Homo sapiens: one gene and its partners. The protein of the gene in region 1 purifies or fractionates together with the protein of each later gene. This does not show direct contact. Each region holds a gene or a part of one and is shown in the gene's direction. Other genes may lie near its edges. The genes, in order: KPNA1, RNMT, USP1 and CHD8.

Region 1 (7,025 bases):
TCTGAAAAAAATCTTTATTTTTGTTTCCACTTTTGAAGGATGATTTTGCAAGGTTCAGAGTTTCTAGGTTGGTGGTTTTCTCTCTCAACACTTCAAATATTTCACTTCACTTTCTTCTGGCATGTGTGGTTATCATTCTTATCTTTATTCATGTGTTAAGTACAGTGTTTTTACCCTTGTCTTTTAGGATTGTTTTTCCTTTATTTCTGATTTTCTGTTGTTTGAAAATGATATCCCTAGGTGTAGTGGGATTTTTTTGGCCTTTGTCCAGCTTGGTGTTCTCTGGGCTTCCAGTGGTTTTGTTCCCAGACCAAACTGGGTTGGGCTGCTGTTTCTCATGGCCCAATAACAAGATGCAGATGAACTGGGGAGGAAGAGAGTTTTTATTTTTGTACCTGGTTACAGGGAGAAGGCCTAGAAATTATTGCCAGACCAACTCGAAATTACAAAGTTTTCCAGATATTATATACCTTTTAAGCTATATGTCTGCGTGTAAGTGTGTATTCATCTAAAGACATAAGTGATGAAACTTCTTTTAATCTGTAACTAAGGTCTGAGTCTTGAAGACCTTCCTCTGGAGTCTCAGTAAATTTACTTAATCTAGGTGCTGAGGTGATTACCCTTATCTTGTCTCCTGCTCGTGGAGGTTTGGGGAGTTCTTTCAGACATCCAATAAACTTGTTTGTGGAGGCCTGGGGAATTTCTTTGTTATGCTTTAAGGCCCAGGAAAGGCCTAGGCAAAACTCTTGGTGGGCTTTTGTTAGATTCCAGCCTTTGTATAAGGGCACTGGCTTTTTTTAGCTTTTAATATTTAACTTAACCAGTCAGTCAGTACTGAAACAGTTGTTATGGAGCCCTGCATTAATGAGACATGGCCTGCTACAGTTTGGTGTCTGATACTAATTTGGGGGAAATTCTCAGTCATTATTGTGTCAAATATTTCTTTTGTTCTTTCCTCTCCTCCTGATAGTTCCATTCCATGTTTATTATACCATTTGTAGTTGTTTCAGTTCATAGATACTCTGTTCTATTTGTGTCAGTCCTTTTTCTGTTTTCTTTTCAGTTTTAAAGATTTCGAATGAGATTTCCTTAAGCTCAGAGATTATTTCCTTAGCTGTGTCTTGTTTACTAAAAAGTCGATCAAAGGCATTCTTCATTTCTGTTGTTGTTGATCTCTTGCATTTCTTTTTAGTTCTTTTTTAGAATTTCCATCTCTCTCCTTACATTGCCTATCTGTTCTTGTATGCTGTCCACTTTATCCATTTAAAGCCCTTAGCATATTAATCGTAGTTTTAAATTCTTGGTCCGATAATCTCAACATCACTGCCGTGGCTGAATCTGGTTCTGATACTTGCTCTGTCTCTTCAAAATGTGTTTTTTATATTTTAGTATGCCTTGTAATTTTTTCTTGATAGCTGGACATGTACTGGGTAAAAGAAACTACTGTTAAATAGGCCTTTGGTAGGTGGTTTTGGTATTAAGAGTAATGCTGATCTCCTAGAATGAGTTGAGAAGTACTGTCTCTGCTTCTGTCTTCTGAAAGAATATGATTATGTGCTGATTAGTATTAAGTTAAATCTCAGAGAGAACCTCCTGTAGATCTTGGGTGTTCTTTTTGTGTTGTACTCTGCGTTATGAATTTTAGGTCTCTTGGCCTTCTCAGCTCTGAACTGTGTTTTCTCAAATCCAAGGAGCATCTAAACTCTGGTTGAGTTTACCTTTCCTGCACTGCAGCCTGGAACTGTCTGCATAGTAATCTGAGGCAGTATTGGGGCTTATCTTGGGTTTTTCTTTCTGAGATATCACTACTCTGTGGTTTTTATTGTCCAATGGCTGAAACATTATTTTATGTATTTTGTCTGTTTTTAGTTGTTCAGCGTGAGAGAGGGTAAGTTACTGTTACTCCATCATGGCTTGATGAATAAATGTGCTGCCCAGGATTCATAAGGATATAATGGTAATCACCCTCGTTGGCTGACTTTGGAGAGAACTAGTCTCCTTTGCCTATACACATTAACGGAGCTGCTTTAAAGGTAGTGCTTAAGCAGTCATCATTTGTTGCCACTGGTTGCTGGATAGGTTGGGAAGGTCAGAAGCCACAGTCCACCATCTTTGGAGATTAGGAGGGAAGTATTAAGTCATTTGAACATAGTTTTTATTTTCATTTTCCTTGGTACATTGTTAGGACTGTCCTGATGTATACTTTACATAAAGGGATGAGGAAAATGGCCAAGCATGACCCAGCTCCTTTTTCCAACCTTTTTTTTTTTAATGTCATATAGTGTCAGACCTCTCTTAGTAAGTTTTACATTATCAAGTGTTGTTTATAGCATGTTGTAATAGTTAATTATATTTGATTATAAGACTATGGAGAAATCTGAAATGGTTACTCATCAGTAAAAGCTGACAGCTTTAGAATTTTAAAAATGATTTTCAAAGACTTCACTTTGAATGGGGTGCCTAGTATTTGAATGTTGAACTCCCTTGTGTTAGAATTTACATTTACATTGCTACCAATCTTTTATCTTTCAGTTATTCAAGCGGAGAAATGTTGCTACAGCAGAAGAAGAAACAGAAGAAGAAGTTATGTCAGATGGAGGCTTTCATGAGGCTCAGATTAGTAACATGGAGATGGCACCAGTAAGATAATGAACTCTTTTCAGTGTTTTTGTGATGAAGATATGAGATGTAGATTTCCTTTTGAGTTTTAAAAAAGGTTAGATGGCTACAAAAAGTACTTGGCATTTCATTTTTAAAAAGAATATGCTTAATCTCATGGTTCATTAAATGTTTATTATATTTTGGATAAAGTGCAGTTAAATTATAAAGATTAATTCTGCTCTAAAAACTTAACAAGCTAATTATAAGATAAAATTACTCTTTAAAAGTTGAATAAGAATAGACACCTTATTTATTTATTTATTTATTTATTTATTTATTTATTTATTTATTTATGTTTTAGAGACAGGGTCTTGCTGTGTTGCCCAGGTTGGAGTGCAGTGGCGCAATCGTAGGTCACTGCAACCTCGAACTCCTGGGCTTAAGTGATCCTCCTGCTTTAGCCTCCCAAATAGCTGGGACTACAGGCATGTGCCACCATGACTGGCAAATTTTTAAATTTTTTGTGGAGACAGGATCTCACTGTGTTGCCCAGGTGAACTCCTGGCCTCAAGTGATCCTTTTGCCTTGGCCTCCCAAAGTGCTAGAATTACAAGCTTGAGCCATCACACCAAGCCATAAGAGATACTTTAAAGAAAATAATGATTTTTTATTGATTTACAAAATTGACCTGTTTGTATGATTTAAAAACTTGATTCCACATCAGAACTCTTGGATTTTTCTGTTGTAAACCATTTTGTTACTTTTTTGAAGTTAACATGAAGAGATAAAAGTCATGCTTTATTTGTATGGATTAGACCTATCTAGATTTCTAGAGTATTGTAATTACGTAATTTTAAAAATAGGTTATATATGTGTACATATATATATATGTGTACACACACACAGTTTTTTTAAAAAGAAAATTATCTCCTAAAAGGTACTGTTGTTTGTAGTAACAAAAAAAGTACAATTAAAAAAAATGAAGAAAAATCTTTCTTCCGCTTAGCCACCTAGTATTTTTCTCCATTGGCAACTAGTATTACTAAATTCCTATTTATTCTTTCTGAGAACTTTTGTATATTAAAATGTTCTCCTCTCCCCCACCTTTTTTTTTGGTAAATGGTGGCATACTATTCATAGTATTTTGTAGTTTTTATTTTTATTTCATTTCATAGATCTCCAGTTTACATGAACCAGCTTTCTTTGAGAGTTGGGAGGGTAGTATTATTTCCTTTGGAATTCATACAGACATAGCCAATGCCATCATTTTGTGATGAAAGTTTCTAGGCCCTTCAGAAAGCCAGTCTTTCCAATTTTTTTAAGAAGAGAGTGTTAAGTGAATATAAAGTGTTTTATGGATTGTATTAGGGTTCTCCAGAGAAACAGAACCAATGAGAGAAAGAAATTTAGTTTAAGAAAGTGGCTCGTGTCTTTGGGAGCTGGCAAGTGTGAAATCTGTAGGGCACACTGGCCCACTATAAATTCAGGTTAAGAGTTGATGTTGTTGAATCCCTTTTCTTCAGAAAACCTAGTCTTTGCTTTTAAGGGTTTCAACTGATTGGATGAGGCCAACTTGGACTACAGGCGTGCGCCACTACCCCCAGCTAATTTTTTTGTAGTTTTAGTAGAGACAGGGTTTCACCATATTGGCCAGGTTGGTCTTGAACTCCTGACCTCGTGATCCACCCGCCTTGGCTTCCCAAAGTGTTGGGATTACAGGCGTGAGCCACCGCACCCAGCCAGATTACAACTTTCCTTTGTGCAACTAAAAATGTATGGATGGTTCTTGACTTAGGAGGGTTCAAGTCAGGATTTTTCAACTTTACAGTGGTGTGAAAGCAATATGCAATCAGTAGGAACTGTATTTTGAATACCCATACAGTCACTCTGTTTCTCATTTTCAGTACAGTATTAAGTAAATTACACGAGATAGTCAACCACTTTATTATAAAATAGGCTTTGTGTTAGATCATTTGTTCAGCTGTAGGCTAATGTATGTGTTCTGAGCATGTTTAAGGTAGGCTAGGCTAGGCAATGAAGTTTGGTAGGTTAGGTGTATTAAGTGTACTTTTTACTTAATATTTTCAACTTATGATGGGATTAGTGGGGCATAACCCCATTCATTGTAAGTTGAGGCACATCTTTACTAACTCCTTCTGCGGAAGAGGATGCAAAATCTTTGGGTGATGTTCACTCCTGTCCTTGATAGCCTGTGACTTAAATATTATAATGTAAAGTTAACAATACTTAAATAGTGTAATGTAAAGTCAGTACAGCTTGCTATAAGAGGATGAGAGAGGGAAGAAAAAGATATTTGCTTAATGTGTGTATATATATATATGAATGTGTTTATGCAAACATATTCATAACAAATCATATAGAAACCTTGATTTAGGAATCAGTCTTGCAATTTTGAAAATAGTTACTTTTCTGATTCTTGAGTAGAATGCGTCATATATTCCCCTATGAGGATTCTTAGGTATTGCTTACCAGTCATCTAGCATTTACAGCTTAGTGCAGCTTTCTTCACAATTCATCTTGTTGACTGCTACCCTTCATGAAATAAGAACTTTGTTTCTTTCTGACAAATGACCCTGAGAAGAAAATTAACTGCTAATACTGGGGATGAGTTATGGTGGGAAATGGAAACATTCTAATAAAGCAAGAAGGTAGTGGGAAACTGGAAAGTTTTAATAAAACAAGAAAGAAATTTTAAATAAGTTTAAGAGTCAGCTGTTGAATTTGGCAGTGGCTGGATTTATACAGGACCACTCTATTTACTCACTCAATAAGTATTGCAGAGCATTTACAGTACACCAGCCCTTAGTGATAGAGTAAGACAGACAGGGTCTTGGGCTTACAAGGAAGTTACAGTATACTGGAGGAACACAGAAAAATATCTGGGAGTGTAATAAGGGCTGGGGCATACGATTGAAATATGGTGCTGTGATAGAGATAAAGTGGCTACTTTAGGCTTGGAGGTCTTGAAAAGCCATCTTTTAAAACTTAACATTTAATTTTGATAAGAAAGAATAGCCAGCTATGTGATGAGCAAGGAGGGGAAGAGCAATAAGCTCCTTGTCTTATTTACTAGTAAGATCACTTTCTACTGTGAGCTTTTTAATGATAGACAAAGAATTTGGCTTCATTATATTATTAATAATCTTACACGTTTCTATATGTAAAGATTGTCCTACCTTTATGTAACTTCTGGGGAAGTATGATTAACTTAATAACTTGGCCATGATATCTGTTATCTTTCTTTCCTTTGAATTAAGGGTGATAATTTATTATATGTTCTTTTTGTTTGTGATCGCAGGGTGGTGTCATCACTTCTGACATGATTGAAATGATATTTTCCAAAAGCCCAGAGCAACAGCTTTCAGCAACACAGAAATTCAGGAAGCTGCTTTCAAAAGGTGAGCTATGAATATGTTCAGTATATTTTTTCATCTCTCTACAAAATTACTTTCCCATAGTCTGTTTTTCATACCACAGGTAATTTGTGTTGGAGTATTTTTATCAATAAAAGAATAAAAATACAGACATATATGTAATTGTGAACCATGCCTAAATTTTAAGTTTCCTATTTATTTGTGGGATCTCACCAGGATCAGAAAACAGAATTATTTTCATTTTTGGGTTATTTTATAAAAGACTTTATAGTGAATAGTAGTCAGTATCATGTTAATTCAAATTGAGAGACTGACTTTTTTTTATAGAGTGACTTTAAAAATACTCCTTGAAAGAGTTATGATTGTTGATTTTAATGTTAGCAATTTACCACTGAAAGTTAGGAATGCATTTACTGGTGGGCAGGGTGATTACCTTTTTTTTTTTTTTTAAAGACGGCTCTGTTGCCAGTCTGGAGTGCAGGCTGGGCGCGATCTTGGCTCACTGCAACCTCCGACTCCCTGGTTCAAGCGATTTTCCTGCCTCAGTCTCCCGAGTAGCTGGGATTACAGTTACACGCCACCACCCCCAGCTAATTTTTGTATTTTTTTTTTTTTTTTGAGATGGAGTCTCACTCTGTCGCCCAGGCTGGAGTACAGTGGCGCTATCTCGGCTCACTGCAAGCGCCGCCTCCCGGGTTCACGCCATTCTCCTGCCTCAGCCTCCCAAGTAGTTGGGACTACAGGCGCTCGCCACCGTGCCCAGCTAATTTTTTGTATTTTTAGTAGAGACGGTGTTTCACTGTGTTAGCCAGGATCTCGATCTCCTGACCTTGTGATCCTCCTGCCTCGGCCTCCCAAAGTGCTGGGATTACAGGCGTGAGCCACTGCGCCCGGCCTTTTTTGTATTTTTAGTAGAGATAGGATTTCACCATGTTGGCCAGGATGATCTCGATATCCTATCATGATCCGTCTGCCTCTGCCTCCCAAAATACTGGGATTACAGGCATGAGCCACCGCACCCGGCTGGTA
Region 2 (7,230 bases), on another chromosome or scaffold:
ACAGGTTCTTCAGGCAAAGCAGAGTTAACCTCCTCAGAGGTGGAAGAACTGCTTCTACTGGCAAAAAAGAGTGAGTCAAATTTAGGAGTTTAACATCCCCAGCTTCATCAGGATGTTCCCATATGGCCCTATTCCAAATGTGCAGATCCCATTCCTTCCCAATCAATGCCCTCATTTTAATAGCAGACCAAGGTGAGAAGGGAATTCAGTTAGCACTGTAATTCAGCCACCTACAGGATAAGACTCTGGATTTGGTTTTCACCAACCTCAGCTCTGTAGCTACAAGAGATACGGGTTTCTTTAGGGCAGACACAGAAACTTTTCAGGTCACTTATGTGGAGCTTCAATCGGGAATTTGAAGCCTTAAGCTCCCCTTTTCTTTCCTTTCTTTTTTTTTTTTTTGAGACAGTCTCACTCTGTCACTCAGGTTGGAGTGCAGTGGTGCAATCTCGGCTCACTGCAACCTCCGCCTCCTGGGTTCAAGCGATTCTCCTGCCTCAGCCTCCTGAGTAGCTGGGATCATCCTTTTCTTTTCTCACTTTACCCAGTACAGTTAAAAGCAACCAGCCTATCTTATTGTACTCATTAATTCGATTAAAATGTTCTAAGGTATCAAATACCTGATCATTCTGAATCTTGTCTATAAGCATGAGTGGGAGTATCTAATAGTGATCTTTTGCATATCTTTGTTGCCATATCACACCAGGGACTATCAGTGCCCTCTTTTCTACAGGGAATACTCATTACTGCCTTTGAATCTGATCAGTTTGGAAAACCAATTCCAGAAACACTATAATCAATTCAGAAAACTCATCCTTAAGATTCTGCTCACTAGAAGCACTCTCAGCACCCAAATTTGAATCAGTCAGGGCTCTACAGAGATACAGAACTGATAGGAAAAAATATATAGATGTAGATAAAAACATAAATATCTTCATCTACATATAGACAGATACAGAGATATTGGTATTTTAAGGAACTGGCTCACACAACTGTAGGGGATAGCAACTTCAAAATGTGTAGGGTAGATCTACAGACAGGAAACTTAGGCAGGAATTGATGCTGCAGTCTTGAGGAAAATACTGTCTTCTTCAGGACACTTCAGTTTTGGCTTTTTTAGCCTTCAATTGATTGAATGAGGTCCACCCACATTATTTAGGGTAATATCCTTTAGTTTAGGTCAACTGATTATAGATGTTAACCACGTCTTCAGAATACCATCATAGCATCAACCAAACTAGTATCTGATTAAATAACTAGGTATTATAGCCTAGCTAAGCTGACATAATAAAACTAATCATCACACACAGTATTACTCAACAAAATCTTATTTTCAACTGAAGGAAAAACCTTTTAAACAATAATATTTTATTTGTTCCAGAAAGACAATGAAATTTCAGTAGGAACACTTTCCTGAGTGGAACAGAGGAAAAGTCCTTCATCCAAAACTATTTGGAGGAACAAAGCTTCCATGAACCACCTCTCTTCACAGAACACTATCTTAGGAAACTATAACATTGTTTCTACATTTTTAAAACAATCTCTATGTTTCAAAAATATGATCTTCAACTCTACAACAGAAATCACACTTTAAAATTATACCTCTGAGAGAAGTACTCTCACTTTCTTACAAATGGGTTGAAATAAATCCTGCAGGTCCTTTCCTTGTCTTGGTGGAGCTCACATTCCAGCAAGATAACATCCTTATCTAACTATTTTCTCTCGGGACATCATAACCCAGGCATTAAGAAGTATCAAAACACTTTCTGAAAAATCTACTATTTGCTAGGCAACGTCCAGTTCTGAGTATGATCTTCTAGCCAGCACTGTTTCATTATTAGCAGAGTCTGGTCAATCAGCCAGACTGCCTGGGTCCAAATCTTGATCCCACTACTTAACAAGCTGCATGATCTTGGCCAAGTTACTTAACCCTCATCTGTAAAACAAACACTCATAACTATACCACTGGGTTCGGTTAGAATTAAACGAGTGCAAATGAATAAAGCACTAACCTTGGCACCTAAAAGGTACTCGAGTATTAGCTATTATTATTTTAATGTCCAGAAAACCAGAGATTACTCAGGCAATAATGAGGGAAAAATAACACCAATGGTAACTTTAAAATCATTTTTATCTGGCTCATTTACTTACATTAACTGCTTTCAAGAATCCTTCCCCTCTATTCTCAAATGAATTTACACAACTTCTAGTTAAGTTTTATAAAAACTGAAAAATGTAATCTCTATATATCCCATCATCGTGGAGTTTTCATAAACACATAGTTAAGAGGCTTTTAATCTAATAACTTTTTTTGTTTTGTTTAGTTTTTTTTGAGACAGTCTCGCTCTGTCGCCCAGGCTAGAGTGCAACGGCGCAATCTCGGCTCACTGCAACCTCCGCCTTCCGGGTTTAAGCGATTCTCCTGCCTCAGCCTCCTGAGTAGCTGGGATTACAGGCACGCGCCACCACGCCTGGCTAATTTTTGTATTTTTAGTAGAGACGGGGTTTCACCATGTTGGCCAGGCTGGTCTCAAACTCCTGACCTCGTGATCCAACCGCCTCGGCCTCCCAACGGCTGGGATTACAGAAGTGAGCCACTGCACCCGGTGTTTAAAAACATTAAAACATGTTTTTAAAAGTCAAAATTACACTCATTTTCTGTAAAATTACAACAGCAATTATCTCAAGAAACTTAAGCATCAGGAACAGGGAATGTAATTGCCTGGTTCTAATGCTTGTATATGCCTATAATGCATTCGATCTGTAAGACCTACACTTTTGCAGTTGTCAATATTCATGTAATGAGATTAATTCTCAACTTACCTCATTTCATATAATAACAAATACAAGCAGTCATCAGAAATTGATGGGTCATCCTTATTTGTGAAAAATAGGCCTCATTCTTGGTTCAAAGTTTGTAACCTCAAATGGGCTAATGCCCACAATTTAGAAGTGATTAGATTGGAAAGCACAACGCTGCAAATGCTGCCTTCCCCAAAGCCAGGTCTATTCATTAATATACCTGTGCCTACTGACAAGAAGGAAGGCTGGTAAAGCACATTTTCAAAGCTGTTTTAAATGGATCAATTTTGGTAAAGAGTAATTCAAGACGGATTGTAAATCTGATCAGTTTTACAACCTTGGAAGGTGGGGACTTGACGCACGACGTTAATATGCACACGCTTCAATAATCTATCCACAGGTAGTTTTGACCCTGATCTCAGGTTGAAAGTCCTCAACTATGGAGCTTTCGAGTTTCAGTACAGTAGGCGCTTTCACTCCCCAGTAGAAATCTGGGGTGATGGCCAAAAAAAGTGTGTTGTCTCCCCCAAACCACACCATGCCAAGTTCAGCCAACGCAGACTAATGCATCCTTAGGTATTTGTCAAGAAGAGGTATAGGCGGTCCCTTTTCTCAGAATCTAACAGGTAAGAATGGCCTCTTGTGGCTTCCCAAACACGGCGGTAAGGACCAGTCTGCCAGTCCCTAATAAGAAATTGCTAATTTTAAAAACCATTCCGAACGCGGGCGCTTCCGGGCCCCTCTTCAACTGGCTTCGGAAGAAGGGGGGAGAACACGGTGAAGGGTTACAGCAAAGGAGGCTGAAAAACAGTCCCAAAGCAAGATTTGCCAGGACACTGGCTCGACCCGGAAGGGCGGGGGGACCTCTCTCGGCCGCCGGGGTCTGTGGGGTCGGCGAGTGTGGACGACCCGTCTGGCAGTCGTACACTGCCACAGCCCGAAGAGCGGCGCACGCGGAGCAGTTGCCGGGTTCGCGCCGCGAGTCAGCTCCCGGACACACGCCCAGGGTTGAAGGTGCCCTCTAGACCCCTCCCGCTGCCCCACAGAGGCCTGGGCCCATGCTACCTCTTAGGACGCTGGAGCCGCCGCCGCCGCTTCCCGCCGCGCAGGCTGGACCACAGCTCCTCGGATGCCACGGCGGTGTCACTCAGCAGAGCAGCCCGACAAAGCGTGGGTCCGCGTGCAGGAACCCGCCGGGCTCAGCCGGACGCTAGCCCCCTGCCGCCCCCGGCCCCGCCAGCCGCGCCCACTAGCAACGTGCTCGCGACCTCCAGTGCCCGCTCAGTGAAGCTTCTGCATGCCGCGCGCGGCACGTCGGGACTCGTAGTTCCGGCGCGGAGGACGTGCGTCGCGGCACTCTCGCCTGACCGTCTCCACGTGACTCTCGCACCTCCGGAAGTGACGTAAGCAGACACGCGTGGCGCGGGCCGCCGTTTCCGCAAACAGAATCGCGTTTGGCTGTGCTGGTGAGTGTGACGGCTGGAACTCCGGCCCTTCCTTTCTTTGTGTTTGTCCCTCGGCCGCCGTGGAGGGGTGGAACTGGCACTCCCACCCCTGACATGGGCTCACTTCGCATTAGCCCTGTGCTTCACTACCCAACGCGTGGGTCTATTGCCTTGTGTCCTCAGTCCCAAGGAAAATGGGAACTCCTTGGGGTGGGCGGGCGCTGTTCCTCCTCCAGACTGGGCGAGCCCGGGTGGGAGAAGCAGCTCGAAGAGCTGCTCCAGCTCGCGCCCCAGGGCCGTGCTGGGGAGGGGCGTGGGGTCCGCAGGTTTGTCTTCAGCGGCGCTTCGGAAACCTGAACCAGAGGTTGAGTAACAGGCCGCGCTAATGACGGAGGGGGTGAACTTGGCTGGAGAAGTCCCTTCTCGCCTCTGTGCGTCCTCTCGGGCCCCGTGGTAGAGGGTCAAGCGGGCGGGTCGGGACTTAGAGCTTATCCCGCTTGGGCTTTATCCCGGCGGCCCTGGCGGCCTGCTCGCTCGTACCCTGAGGAGCTGAAATGACGCAGAGACATAGCTTGCTTCGGAGGTGTGACTGGAAAGCCGGGTCGAAATGTTCGTGTGGTTATTTATCGCGTGTCCATCTCCATGTCAGTCGACCACCTTTCGAAGGTTTCTTGAAGATTCTGAGGGACAGCTCTCTTCCCTATGGAGTGTTTTCATTATTCCACTTTGAGTTTGGTTTGGGTTTTTTTTCCCCCAATTTGTTAAATTGATACATAGAAGTTGCACATATTTGCAGGTGCAGGTGATACTTTGATACATGCATACAATGTGTAACGACTAAATCAGGGCAATTGGGATATTTGTCATCTCAAACATTTATCTTTATGTTGGGAACATTCCAATTTTTCTTTTAGCTATTTTGAACTACACAATAAGTTATTGTTAACTGTGTCCACCCCACTGTACTATCAGGCACTAGATTTTATTTCTTCTGGGGTTTTTTGTACCCATTAACCAATTTCTCTTCTTCATCCCGCTCCTCTTCCTGCTACCCTTCCCAGTCTGTGGTAACCACCAATCCACTCTTTACCTCCATCAGGTCCACATTTTTAGCTCCCACATGAGTAACAACATGATATTGTCTTCATGTGCCTGGCTTATTTCAGTTAACATAATGACATCCGGTTTCATCCATGTTGTTGCAAATGACAGGATTTCATTCTTTTTAATGACTAATATTCCATTGTGTATATATGCTACATTATCTTTATTCATCTGTTGATGAACGCTTAGGTTGATTCCATATCTTGACTATTGTGAATAAACTTGAGACTGCAGATATTTCTTAGATATACTGATTTCCCTTCTTTTGGATCTGTACCCAGATTTGCAAAACTGTTCATCGGACAGGGGATTAACAACCAGAATATAGAAGAAACTCATCTCAATAGCACTAGTTCTATTTTTTGTTTTTTGAAGAACCTCCATCATACTTTTCCCAGTATGTAAATTAGTGGCTGTGCTAATTTACGTTCTCCCTAACAGTGTACAAGTGTTCCCCCTTTTCTGCATCCTGCATCCTCATCAGCATCTTTTTTTTTTTTTTTTTTTTTTTTTTTTTTTGTGTGTGTGTGTGTGTGTGTGTGTGACGGAGCCTTGCTCTGTCGCCCAGGCCGGAGTGCAGTGGCTTGATCTCAGCTCACTGCAACCTCCACCTCCCGGGTTCAAGCGATTCTCATGCCTCAGCCTCCCGAGTAGCTGGGATTACAGGCGCACATCACCATGCCCGGCTGATTTTTGTGTTTTTGGTAGAGACGGGGTTTCACTATGTTGGCCAGGCTGGTCTAGAACTCCTGACCTCAAGTGATCTGCCCACCTCCACCTCCCAAAGTGCTGGGATTACAGGTGTGAGCCACCGTGACGGCCTCAGCATCCATTTTTTAAAAATCTTTTTGATAAAAGCCGTTTTAACCGAGATGAGATGGTATCTCATTGTGGTTTTGACTTGCATTTCCCTGATATTACTGATATTGAGCATTTTTTACGTATATACCTGTTGGCCATTTGTGTGTCTTTTAAGAAATGTCTATTCAGATCTTTTGCCCATTTGTAGTAGGATTGCTTCTTTTTTTTTGCTATTGAGTTGAGTTTCTTCTGTATTCCGGTTGTGAATCCCGTCAGATGAATGGTTTTGCAGATATTTTCTCCCATTCTCTAGGTTATCTCTTCACTCTTGTTTCCTTTGCTGTGCAGAAGTTTTTTAGCTTGATGTAATCCCATTTGTCTGTTTTTGCTTTTGTTGCCTGTGCTTTTGAGGTCTTACCACAAAAATCTTTGCCCAGACCAGTGTCTTGAAGCATTTCCACAATGTTTTCTTCAAGTAGTTTCATACTTTTGGGTATTAAATTTTTCAGTCCATTTTGATTTGATTTTTGCATATGGTGAGAGAGAGTGGTCTAGATTTCCCAGCACCGTTTTTTGAAGAGACTGTCTTTTCACTATGTACGTTCTTGGCACCTTTGTTGAGAACAAGTTGGCTGTAAACATGATGCTTGGTTTTAAACGTTCTTACTTATTTTTGTGGTCATCTGGAATGCTGTGTCATTTCTTCTGACCTAATTATGTTTTTATTATGTCACATCTGTGATATCATGAAAGTGACATAAGTAAAATTCATGCTTAAATCTCAATATTAATTTTAGGTAATAAATATAGCTAAAGATAAGTCACATTTCTTTATTTGAATTTAAAGCCAATTTCCATTAGGAAATCAATGGCAGAGGAGGAGAAATAGGAATTTGATAAGTTGGTATCCAGTTTTTCTAGATAATCATTTTAAGTATTTGTTCTGAAAATCACTTTTCTGATTTGTTGTTGTTGTTCTCTGATTCAGTTCTATTTGGTACTTCTTGGTATTTTGTTACCTCAAATGGTGGGTCATGAAAACTAATAACCATTGAAACCCTTACCCATTCATAGTGAG
Region 3 (7,025 bases), on another chromosome or scaffold:
ACATTTCTGTACTTTAAAAATTCTACAGTAAAGCAGCAGTGAACTTGGTTGACAACTCCAGTCTGACTTGATAGTCTGTAGCGGCACAAAAAAGTACGCTTCAGTGTACTTCTTAGTCAAATCTAGCAGTTTATAGTAGGAACAGCAAAACTGGTGGTTCCCCGTAGGAATCACATCGATAATGTTTAACTCATGTTAACACTGTGCTCAGCCATTTAGACTAACTTGGAGAAATATTTGTTGACTAAAATTGTCTTTCTGAGTTTAAATTTGATTATTTGTAGTGCAAAACATCTGTGTAGGGGTAAAAGGTTTTATATATATATATATATATATTTGTTTGGTTCAGAAGACTTGACAGTTATAAGACATTTTAAACTCTAGTCATGTAACTAGTCATACCTGTTGGAGGCATATGATTGCAAATTATAAAAATAAACTTTAAGTAATGCTTTTGATGCAAATAAATTATTTAGCTACAGAAAATAAATCAGAACAAAGTGGAATACTTTATTCCACCACCAGCAGCTCTAGCTGGAGTCTGTACTACTCCCTGTTTAACATATAGGCACTCTGCTGGGTGACTAAGGTGGATTTGGTCCCATGTGTTAATTTCCTAATAGCTATCAATAACCAGTTGAGGAGATTTGTGAGAGTGAAGCTTTTGTTTATCAGCATTCATACTTCTGAATACTTTGAGGTGCTAGAGTAATAATAGCTAGCAATCGTAAAATAAATGAAAATATTGGAAGGACCTAGTGGTTTTTTTGTTGTTGTTGTTAAAGAAGTAAAAGAATAGTAAACTTAAAGCATTTGTGTTTTGAGATGGGGTCTCCTTGTGTTGCCCAGGCTGGTCTTGAATTCCTGGGCTCGAGCAGTCCTCCCAAGTAGCTGGAATTACATGTCAATGCCCCCACACCCACATTCTGAACATTTTATTTTTAAGTGAGGGATAGCTACATATTTTTTTTTTTTTTACCAGCAGGAAGTCATATATAATTCTCTTCACAGACTTTCTTTCCTCTGAATTCTTATTAATAGAATCTTACTTAGTGCAGCCTCTCCCAAATATTGTCATGGTTAGTTTATTCCCAGGTTTCTGTTCAGTTAAACTATTTGATTAAAATGTCAAAGTAGATGAAACAAATCATAGTCTCTCAGTTCCTCAATTTTCTACTCTGTAAAATAGGATTAACATCCTTTTAAGGGAATTGTTCTGTGGCTTGTTATGTGTAATAATGTTTTTAAATGCTTTTAAAACTTTTATTCTGGGCATATAGCAATTTTTGAGCCTGTATTTCTTAAAATGTCATCTGAACAAGATTCACATACTTTTCAGATTATACAACTTTTGGGAAAAGACTAAATCTACAGAAGTAATATTTTCACCTTGTTTCTTTAAGATAACTACTTATCGTTCTCCCTTCTATATTTCATAGTGATCAAGTTGTTCCTGCAGCACAGTCTTCACCTATAAACTGTGAGAAGAGAGAAAACTTGTTACCATTTGTGGGACTGAATAATCTCGGCAATACTTGCTATCTTAATAGTATACTTCAGGTAAATTGACAATTTTGCTATATCATAAAGCTTTAGTAGGCAAAGATTGATGTAGCATTTAATGTTTTTGAGTTATTGGAGGACTTTAATGTCCATACTGTCTTTGCCTTTGATTGTTAATAAACCAGAATAGGCTAAAATAATAAGTTACATGTTATTAAACTTCCTTTGGGGTAAGAGAAAATGATAGACTAAATAAAGGTGGGATAGCAAAATTGAGTAGACCTTAAGTGGAAGGTCAAACCTTTAATTTCTTTCTCTGATTCCTGGTGCTACAGTGTGATATATGTCTTATCCCTTGGAAGTAACGTTGGCATTGTGTTGTGTGTCCGTTGGCGCTGTGTTGTGTGTCCTTGTAACCTTAAAGTCTTAGCAATATCTGCCCAGGTGCAGTGCTTTGTGCTAATGAGGGAAGACACTGGGCTACTACTGATGAAGTGGAGAACAAATTTTGACACAAAACTTAATCTCAGAATTTTAGGGTAATACATGTTAAAAGTGCTCTATAGAAAGCATGATGTTGTTTTAATGATTTTACGTGTATTGTTTGTTCAGTAAACACTTAAGACAATCTCACTTTTTATAGGTATTATATTTTTGTCCCGGTTTTAAATCTGGAGTAAAGCACTTATTTAATATTATTTCAAGGAAGAAAGAAGCTCTAAAGGATGAAGCCAATCAAAAAGACAAGGTAAGAAAAATAAAGAACAGAAAATAATGTAAAAAGCAAAAGTAAATTAATGGAAATTTACTTGCCTGGAAATGAAGAGGACTGGGGGGGTGGATGACAAAGATTATTTCTCTGTTAGCGAGCTATTGTCAGGCAATTATTTTTCATTCTTTCAAGGTGGCTAACTAGATAATTCCCTTTTACAATGTTTGCTCCTGTAATCTGTGTATCAAACTTTTGTTACTTGTATACTATATATTACTGTATACTATAATCACAATATGTTATACCCATGTACAACTTATTTACCCATTGTGTTTTCAAATTGAGTTAAAATTTAAATACAGTGTATTTAAAGAAATCTTTAACTTCCATAATTAAAAAACCATTGTAATTCACATAAATAGTAATTCATAATTCCTCTTAAAATTACAAAAAAGACCAGACGTGGTGGCTCATGCCTGTAATCCCAGCAGTTTGGGAGGTCAAGGTGGGTGGTGGATTGCTTGAGCGCAAGAGTTTGAGACCAGCCTGGGTAACATGGCAAGACCCTGTCTTTACTAAAAATACAAAAACTAGTAGGGCGTCATGGTGTGAGCCTGTAGTTCCAGCTAATTGGGAGGCTGAGGTGGAGGATTGCTTGAGCCCAGGAGGTTGAGGCTCCAGTGAGCCGCGATCAAGCCACTGCACTCCAGCCTGGGCGACAGAGACCCTGTCTCAAAATAAAAAAATAAAAAATAAGGCTTATTTGTACATCCCTTAAAATTAGTGCTATTATGCAACTTAGAAAATCTAGTATTCTTAAGTGAGACAAAGACAAAGGGGGAAGGTACTTAATTTGTTCATAAAATTATTGGTTTGTGTGTTTCTTTCTTGACAGGGAAATTGCAAAGAAGATTCTTTGGCAAGTTATGAATTGATATGCAGTTTACAGTCCTTAATCATTTCGGTTGAACAGCTCCAGGCTAGTTTTCTCTTAAATCCAGAGAAATATACTGATGAACTTGCCACTCAGCCAAGGCGACTGCTTAACACACTGAGGTATAGCCTATAATATAATTTTAGGGTTTCAATTTAGCTACTTGTTTATATCCTTGGAGGAGAATGACATGCGAAGAAACAGGAATAAAGGGCAAGGAAAGTAGAAACTCTAGGTCCACAGTCCTTTATATCCCAGAGACTCTGAATACTGGAAATTTTTTTCATAAATTTGGTGCTAAATTCGTTAGATCTGAACATATTATATGAGGCTTTTTATAGTCATTCATATTTATCTCTAACGTGAATATTCATACATGCTTCTATAGAAGTAGTAATGTGTTTAGTTATAGAGTACTCCCATATCAAGTCGGTGATAAATATTTTACTTATATGCCATATAATCATTGAATCTGAAAATGTCTGAATTTCTAAATGCGTGGTCCTAAGGATTTCACATTAAGAATTATAGGACTATATTCAAAATATGTGTAAGAACTGTAAATTCCAAATATTCTATTTTTATATGTGATTAGAGGAGAACTGTTGGCTAACTGGATTAGATTGCTTTTTGGTATTTTCTTAAAAATGAAACTTTACATATAAAATAGCCTTATTCAAATACAATTATAGGGCAAGTCTTTAAAACAATCACTTAAGCATTTAGTTTAAAAATAGAACTAGGTGCAATATATTGCTATACCTTAGTTAAGAGGTATTGTAGGCCGGTCACAGCTCACACTTGTAATCCCAGCACTTTGGGAGGTGAAGGTAGGTGGGTCATTTGAGGTCAGGAGTTCAAGACCAGTGTGGCCAACATGGTGAAACCCTGCCCCTACTAAAAATACAAAAATTAGCTGGGTGTGGTGGTTTGCACCTGTAGTCCCACCTACTCGGGAGACTGAGGCAGGAGAATCGCTTGAACCCGGGAGGCGGCGGTTGCAGTGAGCCAAGATTGCGCCATTGCAGTCCAGTCTGGGCAACAGATCAAGACCCTTGTCTCCAAAAAAAAAAAAAAAAAAAAGGCCATTGTAGCGTGGTGGCCAAGAGCGGGTTTGAATACTGGCTTTTCATCCTAAGTAGTTCTGTGACCTTGGGCAAGTTATTTAACCTGTCTGTGCCTTAGTGCTTGTATCTGTCAGTAATGGTGATAATAGTACCTCATAGGGTTATTGTGAAGATAATGTATACATAGGAGATAAAAAACATTTTGACTAAAACCTGGTGTATGGTAAGCATTATCTAAGTATTAGTTATTAATATATTTAGAAGAGGATCAAAGTATTATAATGAAAATAGGGTACAATTTACTCTTACTTTTAGTTACAGATAAGAAATTCCAAATTAGTGCTGAATAAATGTCTTGACATTTAAAAAATGAAATAATTTATGATTTTCCTTACATGAATTAATTTCTATATAGGCTTTATGTACTGTATCTTCAAAACTAGAATAGATGAAATGGAAATTTTTATTTATAGGGAACTCAACCCTATGTATGAAGGATATCTACAGCATGATGCACAGGAAGTATTACAATGTATTTTGGGAAACATTCAAGAAACATGCCAACTCCTAAAAAAAGAAGAAGTAAAAAATGTGGCAGAATTACCTACTAAGGTAGAAGAAATACCTCATCCGAAAGAGGAAATGAATGGTATTAACAGCATAGAGATGGACAGTATGAGGCATTCTGAAGACTTTAAAGAGAAACTCCCAAAAGGAAATGGGAAAAGAAAAAGTGACACTGAATTTGGTAACATGAAGAAAAAAGTTAAATTATCCAAGGAACACCAGTCATTGGAAGAGAACCAGAGACAAACTAGATCAAAAAGAAAAGCTACAAGTGATACATTAGAGAGTCCTCCTAAAATAATTCCCAAGTATATTTCTGAAAATGAGAGTCCAAGACCCTCACAAAAGAAATCAAGAGTTAAAATAAATTGGTTAAAGTCTGCAACTAAGCAACCCAGCATTCTTTCTAAATTTTGTAGTCTGGGAAAAATAACAACAAACCAAGGAGTCAAAGGACAATCTAAAGAAAATGAATGTGATCCTGAAGAGGACTTGGGGAAGTGTGAAAGTGATAACACAACTAATGGTTGTGGACTTGAATCTCCAGGAAATACTGTTACACCTGTAAATGTTAATGAAGTTAAACCCATAAACAAAGGTTAGTATAATTCTTAGACTTTGATAGGTAGAAGCATTAGCAGCTACAGAATTAGAATTTTCTCTTCCTAGATACATGTACAATATAATCTCTGGCTAAAATTGTTTCAAGAGAAGGAAATTTAACACTGAATGTGAACTATGGTGTTTTAAGTGCTATGCTTAGATTAGTGTGTGTGTATATATTGTATGCATATATATGTGTGTGTGTGTGTGTGTAATGTCATTAAAGTAATTTTAATTTATAGCTTATAAAGTAGGGAAGTTCGGCCAGGTATGTTAGCTCGCACCTGCAATCCCAGTACTTTGGGAGGCCTAGGCGGGCAGATCACCTGCGGTCAGGAGTTCAAGAGCAGCCTGGTCAACATGGTGAAACCCCGTCTCTACTAAAAATGCAAAAATTAGCCAGGCATGGTGGCGCACGCCTGTAGTCCCAGCTACTTGAGAGGCTGAGGCAGGAGAATCGCCTGAACCCGGGAGGTGGAGGTTGCAGTGAGCCAATATTATGCCACTGCACTCCAGCCTGGGGCGACAGAGCAAGACTCCGTCTCAAAAAAAAACAAATAATAATAAAGTAGGGAAGTTCAGTATATTTTAATGTACATTTAAGAGTACATTTCCCTTTATGCAGTGTTTGACATAAACTGATGAAGGACATTGCATTTAGTGAAATTTTAAAAGTAAAGACTAAGTACAGTCATGTGTTGCTTAACAACAGGGATATGTTCTGAGAAATGTGCTGTTTCATTGTGTGAATTTCACGGTGTACTTACACAACTAGATGCTAGAGCGTACTACACAACTAGCCTATATGGTATAGACCAGGGTATCTAATCTTTTGGCTTCCTTGGGCCACACTGGAAGAAGTGTCTTGGGCCACACCACACAGAATACACTAATGATAGCTGATGAGCCAAAAAAAAAAAAATCAAAAAAGTCTCATAATGTTTTAAGAAAGTTTATGAATTTGTTACGGGCTACAGGCAAGCTTTGCATGGCCTATTGCTCCTAGGCAACAAACCTGTATAGCATATAACTACTGAATACTGTAGGCAACTGTAGCACAATGGTATTTGTGTATCTAAGACGTATCTAAGCATAGATATGTAAACATAGGTACAGTAAAAATAATCATAGACTACTGTCATATGCGGTCCATTGTTAAATAATTGAAACGTTGGTAGGTGGTGCATAACTGTAAGTTACACGATACTTGAACTAGATTTTTACCTAGTTTTGTCCAGATCTACAGATATCAGGGAAAATGTGTAATATTGATATAGTGAATAGTTTTACCAAAAATGTCATCCTTATTCTGGGTTTATTCTATGGGGAGGTGTCTGTAGGAAGGGAGTTACAATACAACTGACTTTTTTTTATTTTTTATTTTTTTTATTTTTTTGGAGACAGAGTTTTGCTCTTGTTGCCCAGGCTAGAGTGCAATGGCATGATCTTGGCTCACTGCAACCTCCACCTCCCGGGTTCAAGCGATCCTCCTGCCTCAGCCTCCCGAGTAGCTGTGATTACAGGCATGCACCACCACACCCGGCTAATTTTGTATTTTTACTGGAGACAGGGTTTCTCCATGTTGGTCAGGCTGGTCTTGAACTCCGACCTCAGGTGATCTGCCCGCCTCAGCCTCCCA
Region 4 (7,638 bases), on another chromosome or scaffold:
GCCTGTAATCCCAGGTACTCGGGAGGCCAAGGCAGGAGAATCGCTTGAACCCAGGAGGTGAAGGTTACGCTAAGCCAAGATCACGCCATTGCACTGCAGCCTGGGCAACAAGAGCAAAACTCTGTCTCAAATAAATAAATAATTTTTTTTTTCTTTTTTTTTTTTTTTTTTTGGGGGGATGGAGTCTCACTCTGTCTCCAGGCTGGAGTGCAGTGGCATGATCTTGGCTCACTGCAACCTCCACTTTCCAGGTTCAAGCAGTTCTCCTGCCTCAACCTCCCGAGTAGCTGGGACTACAGGCATGTGCCACCACACCTGGCTCATTTTTGTATTTTTAGTAGAGACAGGGTTTCACCATGTTGGCCAGGATGGTCTTGATCTCTTGACCTCGTGATCCGCCCACCTTGGCCTCCCAAAGTGCTGGATTACAGGTGTGAGCCACCGTGCCTGGCCTAAATAAATAATTTCGTAAGCATATACAATCCACTTCCCACTAAGAATTAGGGTCAAAGACATTCTATTTGAACACTTGCAATTACCTAGATCTAGTTGGCCTTTGGTTGATAGATCCTCTGCCTCGGAATTTCATTGAGTTTTTTTCTTCCTTGCCTTTGGGTGTCTGCTTGCCACTTCCTAAGAATTCTTGTAGAAGGCAGTTTCCTCTACTTGCCCAAGAGCACTGAGTACTTCTCTACTATCCTATTATTAGCTTCTATCTCTTAGTGTAACTTCAAAACTTTTAAGAGCAGTGAAGTTGGTCAGGGACATGTGGCCACTTATTATTACCTAAAGAAAACATTTGTTCCCTGTTCATTTTATTTTAGGGGCCAGATCTAACATTGTAGTGTCTTTCACCAGATAGACTTCTACTGTTTCATCAAACTCCCTTCTTAACTAGACCTAGACTTTCTACTCCAATCAGGCTAATCTACTTACTGAATGTGACATATTTATTCCTAGTTCCATACCTTTGCACATGCCCTACTCTCCACTAATTATACTTAAAAGTCCAAAAATTTTTTCTTTAGTAACAGACTTAGGTACTGCTAAGCAGTTATTAACACAATATTCCTTAGTTTTCATATGTTGGTTATTCATATGTCTATTTATATGTATATTTATTTTTATGTATGTTACTATGTAAATATGGTTTGCAGTTGTTTTTGTGTGGAATCTTGTCTTTCCGTATAAGTTGTAAGCTCCTTGAGAGCAGGATCCATGTCATTCCTTTATTTTTATAAATTATTCCCCCTATCATTCCTTTACAGTGCCTAGTGCTACTCATTATGTGTTCATTGAATTTGACTGACATAGTTAAAAACTTAAGGTTTATTTTAGACTTTCAAGGAAACAAAAGACTTTAGAGTCCTCTCTCTGTAATTCTGCCCCACTCATTTGTTTACCCTGGGTTTTATACAGTTCTCTTCCTTCTCCCCTCCCACCTTTCCCTGGCTTTTTGCCTCCATTCCATGAGGCATACAGTAAGGCTGCCTGCTAGTAAGCAGTCACATAAGTGGGTACCTATCCAGCCATTCTCTTTTCAGAGCATATAATACTATCTTAGCCAAACTTGCCTTTGCTTCACTCATCATGCAGCCTTCTGGGTTGGTTGCTATATATATCTTTTTTCCTTGATGTCCCGTTCTCTTCCACAGCCCTGAGGTCTTACGAATTTTTCTACTTTCTTTTTGCTGTTGATGAATTGTTTCATTATTAAATATATGCATGTATCAAAGCTATTCATACTCCATGTGTCATTTCTAATTGTATCCCAAACATTAGTAGATACTCTCCTCTCAGGGAATTAAATCAAAGATAATGAAGAAGCCTCTTTGGGATTCATGCTATACTCGATTCTGACCCCAGTAGTAGTAGTAATAGTTGACAGTGCACCACAGGAAGTTGGAAGACATTTGGGGTATTGCTTTGGTTATGCTTTTGTTTTGTTTTTAAAATCCTATCTGATTCCAAAAAGGATTTGAAGCTGTTGAACTTGGAGTTAGCCTGCCCCCTTACCTCTGGGCGAAAACTAAAGTAATAAAAACTAGTTTCTGTACAGAAGGTTTTTTTTTTGTTTTTTTTTTTTTTACTACCCAAAAAAACAATCTTTAGCAATTGAGAAGCATTAGAGGATTGGTCAAAGACAGCATTCTGCCTAGAGCTACTGCTTTCAGAGTCAATAAAGGATACCATTTTGATATTTTGGAGCACAGTTTTTTAATATTAATGCCCATATCTTGTTCTATTAACCAAGCCGACTTATGACCTTCTGTACTTGGGTATTGCACCAATTGTAAGGGAAGCATGAGAAAAAAAAGTATCTGGGCAAAATCATCTGTATTCTGAGTGAAGTGGTCATGAAGAATTATAAAAAGTGGATATGCCACCCCATATGAAGAATGGTAGTTATGAAATAATGTCCACTTTTTTTTTTTTTCCATCTATAGTCTTACCAATGTCCATTGGTTTTTGAAGGCCAAGACCATTGGAAATCATACTAAGATCAGTGTAGGTACCAGAAATTGGTTCAGGCACACCTGTTCCCATTTCCATAATATCTATAGCTCCTTTGATGACAGGTCTATTCTGTACCAGATGGATAATAGGCTCTCATCCTAGAAACTATTAATAATTAAGGTTATATCTGTATATGCATTTACAGACAAACACATTGTTCTGATAAATCTTAATACTAACATCAAATTGATATAATGGCAGCAGTAGCCAGGAGAGAATTTGGTTGACAGATTTTTTTTTTTTTTTTTTTTGAGACAGAGTTTCCCGCTTGTTGCCCAGGCTGGAGTGCAATGGCATGATCTAGGCTCACCACAACCTCCGCCTCCCGAGTTCAAGTGATTTTCCTGCCTCAGCCTCCTGAGTAGCTGGGGTTACAGGCATGCACCACCACACCCAGCTACTTTTGTATTTTTAGTAGAGACGGGGTTTCTCCATGTTGGTCAGGCTGGTCTTGAACTCCGGACCTTAGGTGATCCACCCGCCTCGGCCTCCCAAAGTGCTGGGATTACAGGCGTGAGCTACCGCGCCTGTCTTGGCTGACAGATTTTGATACACAGGGAAATGTATTTGGCCAAGTCTTTTTTTTTTTTTTTTTTTTTTTTTTTTTTTTTTTGAGATGGAATTTCGCTCTTGTTGCCCAGGCTGGAGTGCAGTGGTGAGATCTTGGCTCACCACAACCTCCGCCTCCTGGGTTCAAGCGATTCTCCTGCCTCAGCCTCCCGAGTAGCTGGGATTATGGGTGTCTGCCACCACGCCCGGCTAATTTTTTTTTGTATCTTTACTAGAGACGGGGTTTCACTATGTTGGCCAGGCTGCTCTCGAACTCCTGACCTCAGGCGATCCACCCGCCTCAGCCTCCCAAAGTGCTGGGATTACAGGCGTGAGCCACTGCGCCCAGCTTAAGGCCGAGTCTTATCACTCATATGACTTCTTGATGTCTCTGAGCTCCTATCATGTAAGACCATGCAATTATGTTACTCCTTGAGAAATTCCTTTAATAATCTGGAAGGATTCCCTCACTCACAACTTTAAAAAAGATTTCTTGGCCAGGAATGGTGGCTCATGTCTGTAATCCCAGCACTTTGGGAGGCCGAGGTGGGCGGATCACTTGAGGTCTGGAGTTCGAAACCAGCCTGACCAACATGGCGAAACCCCGTCTCTACTAAAAATACAAAAATTAGCTGGGCGTGGTGGCGGGAGCCTGTAGTCTCAGCTACTCAGGAAGCTGAGACAGGAGAATTGCTTGAACCCGGGAGGCAGAGGTTGCAGTGAGCCGAGATCGCCCCACTGCACTCCAGCCTGGGTGACCGAGCGAGACTCCATCTCAAAAAAAAAAAAAAAAATTAGGCCTTTAAAAAAAAAAAGGAATTCCTCCTTAAGTCCTGTTCTTGATTTCCAACTGATTCACAGTGCCCCTACTGGAAAATTTGCAGTGAATCCTAAAGCTTAGTAGCACCTATAATAGATACATGTCCTGATATTTTGAGTGAGGTGTCCATAAAGGATTACCCTAGGAAAGTGCAACTTTCACTCTCATTAGAAGAATTAATTTTTGCTTATTTGATTTGTTAAAATTGCTTTACTCCTACAGTTAAGTGAGAGGGTGGTGGTGGTTGTTGCCCGTAACCACATACGGCATTACTCCAGGGTTTCACGTCGTGACTGAGGGGCCTCCTAAGTGTATACAGCAGAGTATGTTCGGGCTGGACCTAGATAGTCGGACAGAACACCGACAGGGTCTTCACATTCTTTAAGCACTCTCACCCAGTCCCGGAGTCCGAGCCAAGATGGCTTCCCAGAAGTAGGTAACTAAGTGTTGTTTTAGTTCACAGCGCCCCCAATGGCGGGGGTCAAAAAAAGATGCCGAGGGGCCTGGCCGCCTGTGAACTGAGTCGTCAGAGGCGAGCCGCCGCCAGATTTTATTTTCAATCAGGCATATTTGTGGTCGCCTACGTACCCTTCTCATCCTCCTAGGACCTTCCACCCTCAAGAGACTTCCTGGATGGCGCTCACACTAGCTCGCTGGAAGAGGCCGGGCTTCGGTGCTGCCATTGGCGGATGGGAGCGCAGGGGGGCGGAGCCTAGGGAGAATGGACTACTAGCAAGCTAGATTGAGGCGAGGGCTGGCCATGCTCCGCCGGAAGGCGCCTTGTTCTCGGAGAGGGTGAGTTGAAACGCTGCCTGGAAAGGAAGTACCAGGACTTGCACAGGTAGGCTTCCCGCTCGCACCCGCTCCTCAGTGCTGGGCCAGGAGTCAGCAAAAGCTGAGGCTCTCAGAGATTTGATTTAAGTAACTCCTTCTCCTCTCTCTTCCACCCCCTGCTCGCCCCCCAGTTGTGAGGGATCAGGTGCGGGGTGATGCTCCGGACTGAACCAGTCTCCTTTGTGAGAGGCCGGGGGAGAGGGTGGCTGCCGGGCCGCGGGGTCCGAGCCGGGCCGAGCCGCGAGGGACTGCTTGGGACGCTGTGGAGTTTTCAGGGCTTGTCATTGCATTACTGGGCGTAGTGTAGATTGGAGGCGGCGCCTTGTTCTCCTCTCTTCAGAGAAGGGAAAACTCCTCGGCCCCGTTTGGTTACTCCATACTTTGGATTCAGAAATAGGTGGTTAGGGTTTTCTACTTCTTTTTATTTTTTTTTCTTCTGTATTTTAATAATAAAGGTGGGTAGGAAAGCATGGGGTAAGCGTAAGCAGATTGTTACTCATTCTCAGGTGTAAGTTCTGTGGGTCTCCTGGCAGTGAAGAGCAGGCTGTTGGAGAATGTTTAGAGATGGTGGGAAGAGAGGAGCTCAAGCCTTGCATCCTCCTTGACAGGTCTGCAGAGCTCACTGGTTTTCCGTTGCATTATGTAAACTCGTCACTGATAGAAGACCCTTCCCCCTGCTTTGGAACGAATGCAGTTTATTTACCTGTCTCTAGTGTCGCAGGGAATTTCCCTGCAGCAGCTGTATAAATGCAGCAGCCTCTTGCTTTTTAAGGGACAGTCTTGAAGCGGTTAGGGTCTTCACAGAAAAGGTATATAGTGGACCCATCTCTTTCGTATGGCTAAGCAAAGTGAGCCAGAAGTCAAAGATTTAGAACTCTGTCTTTTTCTATTAAAGAATAAACAGCGGAGCGCCCCAAACACAAGCCAGGGGAGCTGCCTTATCAGTGTCTGCTGCATCCTACCATCACAGCGGCGTCTACAGATCGTTTCATCTCCATGCTTTTCTGAGTTTGTCGACTCAGTCAAGGATTCTCAGCCTAGGTTAGCATATGCTGAAGTCATCTGGTGTGGGGCACATTACATATCGAAAGTGAGTTTGTGATTTGAATCGTGTCCTGTGTTAGTTAATTAGATCGTGTCTTCTGCTTAGGAATTTCTTTTGTATTGGTCATCCAATAGGTTTCAGAACAAATTCTAGTCAACCTCATAGAGCAAGATATGAGAAACTTATTTCAAGTACTTTGGAATTATCCCAACCCTTAAAAAAAGAGTTATGATAAGAAAAACATTTTCCATGTAAGAAGACCTTCTGCTGCAAGAGAGGCGTGTCAGTGGATCTGAAGGCAAGTGAAAGATATTGGCCAAAGAGAGAGTAGGCAAGTTTGAAGAGACAGGCTTAGGAGAAAGTTTAAAACTGAAATAGTGGCTCACGCTTGTAATCTCAGCACTTTGGGAGGTGGAGGCGGACGGATCACTTGAAGTCAGGAGTTCGAGACCAGCCTGACCAACATGGTGAAACCCCGTCTCTAAAAGTACAAAAAATACAAAAAAAAATTAGCCGGGCATGGTGACGCGTGCCTGTAGTCCCAGCTACATGGGAGGCCAAGGCATGAAAATCGCTTGAACCCTGGAGGTGGAGATTGCAGTGAGCCAAGATCGTGCCCCTGCATTCCGGCCTGGGCGACACAGCCAGAGGATAGCAAAGGAGTAATGGATTGGGATAAGGGATATAATGGAACAGTGTATGAGTACTTGAACAGTTTTTGTATTCTCCATGTTTGATCTGTCCTGTGCATCTGCTCTTTTGGTTTTGTCAGTTTTCTTTTCTTTTCTTTTCTTTTCTTTTCTTTTCTTTTCTTTTCTTTTCTTTTCTTTTTTTTTGAGACGGAGTCTTGCTCTGTCACCCAGGCTGGAGTGCAGTGGCAGGATCTCGGCTCACTGCAACCTCCGCCTCCCAGGTTCAAGTAATTCTCCTGCCTGAGCCTTCCGAGTAGCTGGGATTACAGGCGCCCGCCACCATGCTTGGCTAATTTTTTTTTTTATTTTTAGTAGAGACGGGGTTTCACCATATTGGCTAGGCTGGTCTTGAACTTCTGACCTCGTGATCCTCCCGCCTCGGCCTCCCGAAGTGCTGGGATTACAGGCATGAGCCACTTTTCTAAGCAAAATTACCACTTAAGATTAAGTTGTGGGTGTCAAAACTGTGTTTGCTTACTGAAGAAATAAGATTTGATATTCTCATATGTGAAAGGACTGTAACATTCAGATGAATGCTAAATGCTTTAGTGAACTGTTTGTCTACAGCTCTGGAAGAGTTAAGCTATCTTCTGAGCTTACATTGAGCCTAATACTTGGGAGGAAAACAGAAGACAAACATTTCTCTCGAGTCTCCACTTTCACCTCTAGAATCTCTCTACTTCTGGAGTTGGATTTGAGCCAGTCCTTGATCTGCAGGTCTTCGCATGACCTGTCCTTACATTACTGTGACCATTGTGGTATAATATTTACTATTTTACCTTTAGCATTTGATTCATTGACAGACTATCATGTTTCTTATCTCACTTTAACTTTTTATATCCCCTCTTACATGATCTATGATCTTTTATTCTTTTGTCTCACCAAGTTGGTGATCTTTTCATCTTCCTGTGATTTTGCTCACTTTCCTTTTCACTTAATTCACTGACGTTGTACACTTTTGCTTCTGTTTAGCTGAAACCTTTTAGGGAATGTAATTTCTGTATTTTTAGTAGAGACGGGGTTTCACCATATTGGCCAGGCTGGTCTTTAACTCCTGACCTCGTGAAAATTGAAACCTTTTAGGGTATCTAATTTTCAAGATGTGGTCTTTCTTTGGTACCTAGCACCCAAATGAGAGTTGTCTTTCTTTCTTTCTTAAGAGACGGGGTCTTGCCATCTTG

The links.
Region 2: the proteins of KPNA1 (region 1) and RNMT purify together in Homo sapiens (co-immunoprecipitation; 5 studies listed by BioGRID and IntAct, with this or other methods). This does not show direct contact.
Region 3: the proteins of KPNA1 (region 1) and USP1 purify together in Homo sapiens (co-immunoprecipitation; 6 studies listed by BioGRID and IntAct, with this or other methods). This does not show direct contact.
Region 4: the proteins of KPNA1 (region 1) and CHD8 purify together in Homo sapiens (affinity purification with mass spectrometry; 6 studies listed by BioGRID and IntAct, with this or other methods). This does not show direct contact.

What each region holds. Positions count from the first base shown.
Region 1 is NC_000003.12:122,462,937-122,469,961, reverse strand, and holds part of KPNA1 (importin subunit alpha-5), read left to right. Parts: intron 1-2,532; coding exon 2,533-2,640; intron 2,641-5,920; coding exon 5,921-6,020; intron 6,021-7,025. UniProt on the Homo sapiens protein: Functions in nuclear protein import as an adapter protein for nuclear receptor KPNB1. Binds specifically and directly to substrates containing either a simple or bipartite NLS motif.
Region 2 is NC_000018.10:13,722,462-13,729,691, forward strand, and holds the start of RNMT (mRNA cap guanine-N(7) methyltransferase), read left to right. Parts: upstream 1-4,211; 5' UTR 4,212-4,268; exon of another isoform or gene 4,269-4,404; intron 4,405-7,230. UniProt on the Homo sapiens protein: Catalytic subunit of the mRNA-capping methyltransferase RNMT:RAMAC complex that methylates the N7 position of the added guanosine to the 5'-cap structure of mRNAs. Binds RNA containing 5'-terminal GpppC.
Region 3 is NC_000001.11:62,440,049-62,447,073, forward strand, and holds part of USP1 (ubiquitin carboxyl-terminal hydrolase 1), read left to right. Parts: intron 1-1,439; coding exon 1,440-1,560; intron 1,561-2,146; coding exon 2,147-2,251; intron 2,252-3,110; coding exon 3,111-3,271; intron 3,272-4,689; coding exon 4,690-5,381; intron 5,382-7,025. UniProt on the Homo sapiens protein: Negative regulator of DNA damage repair which specifically deubiquitinates monoubiquitinated FANCD2. Also involved in PCNA-mediated translesion synthesis (TLS) by deubiquitinating monoubiquitinated PCNA.
Region 4 is NC_000014.9:21,453,121-21,460,758, reverse strand, and holds the start of CHD8 (chromodomain-helicase-DNA-binding protein 8), read left to right. Parts: upstream 1-4,635; 5' UTR 4,636-4,727; intron 4,728-7,638. UniProt on the Homo sapiens protein: ATP-dependent chromatin-remodeling factor, it slides nucleosomes along DNA; nucleosome sliding requires ATP. Acts as a transcription repressor by remodeling chromatin structure and recruiting histone H1 to target genes.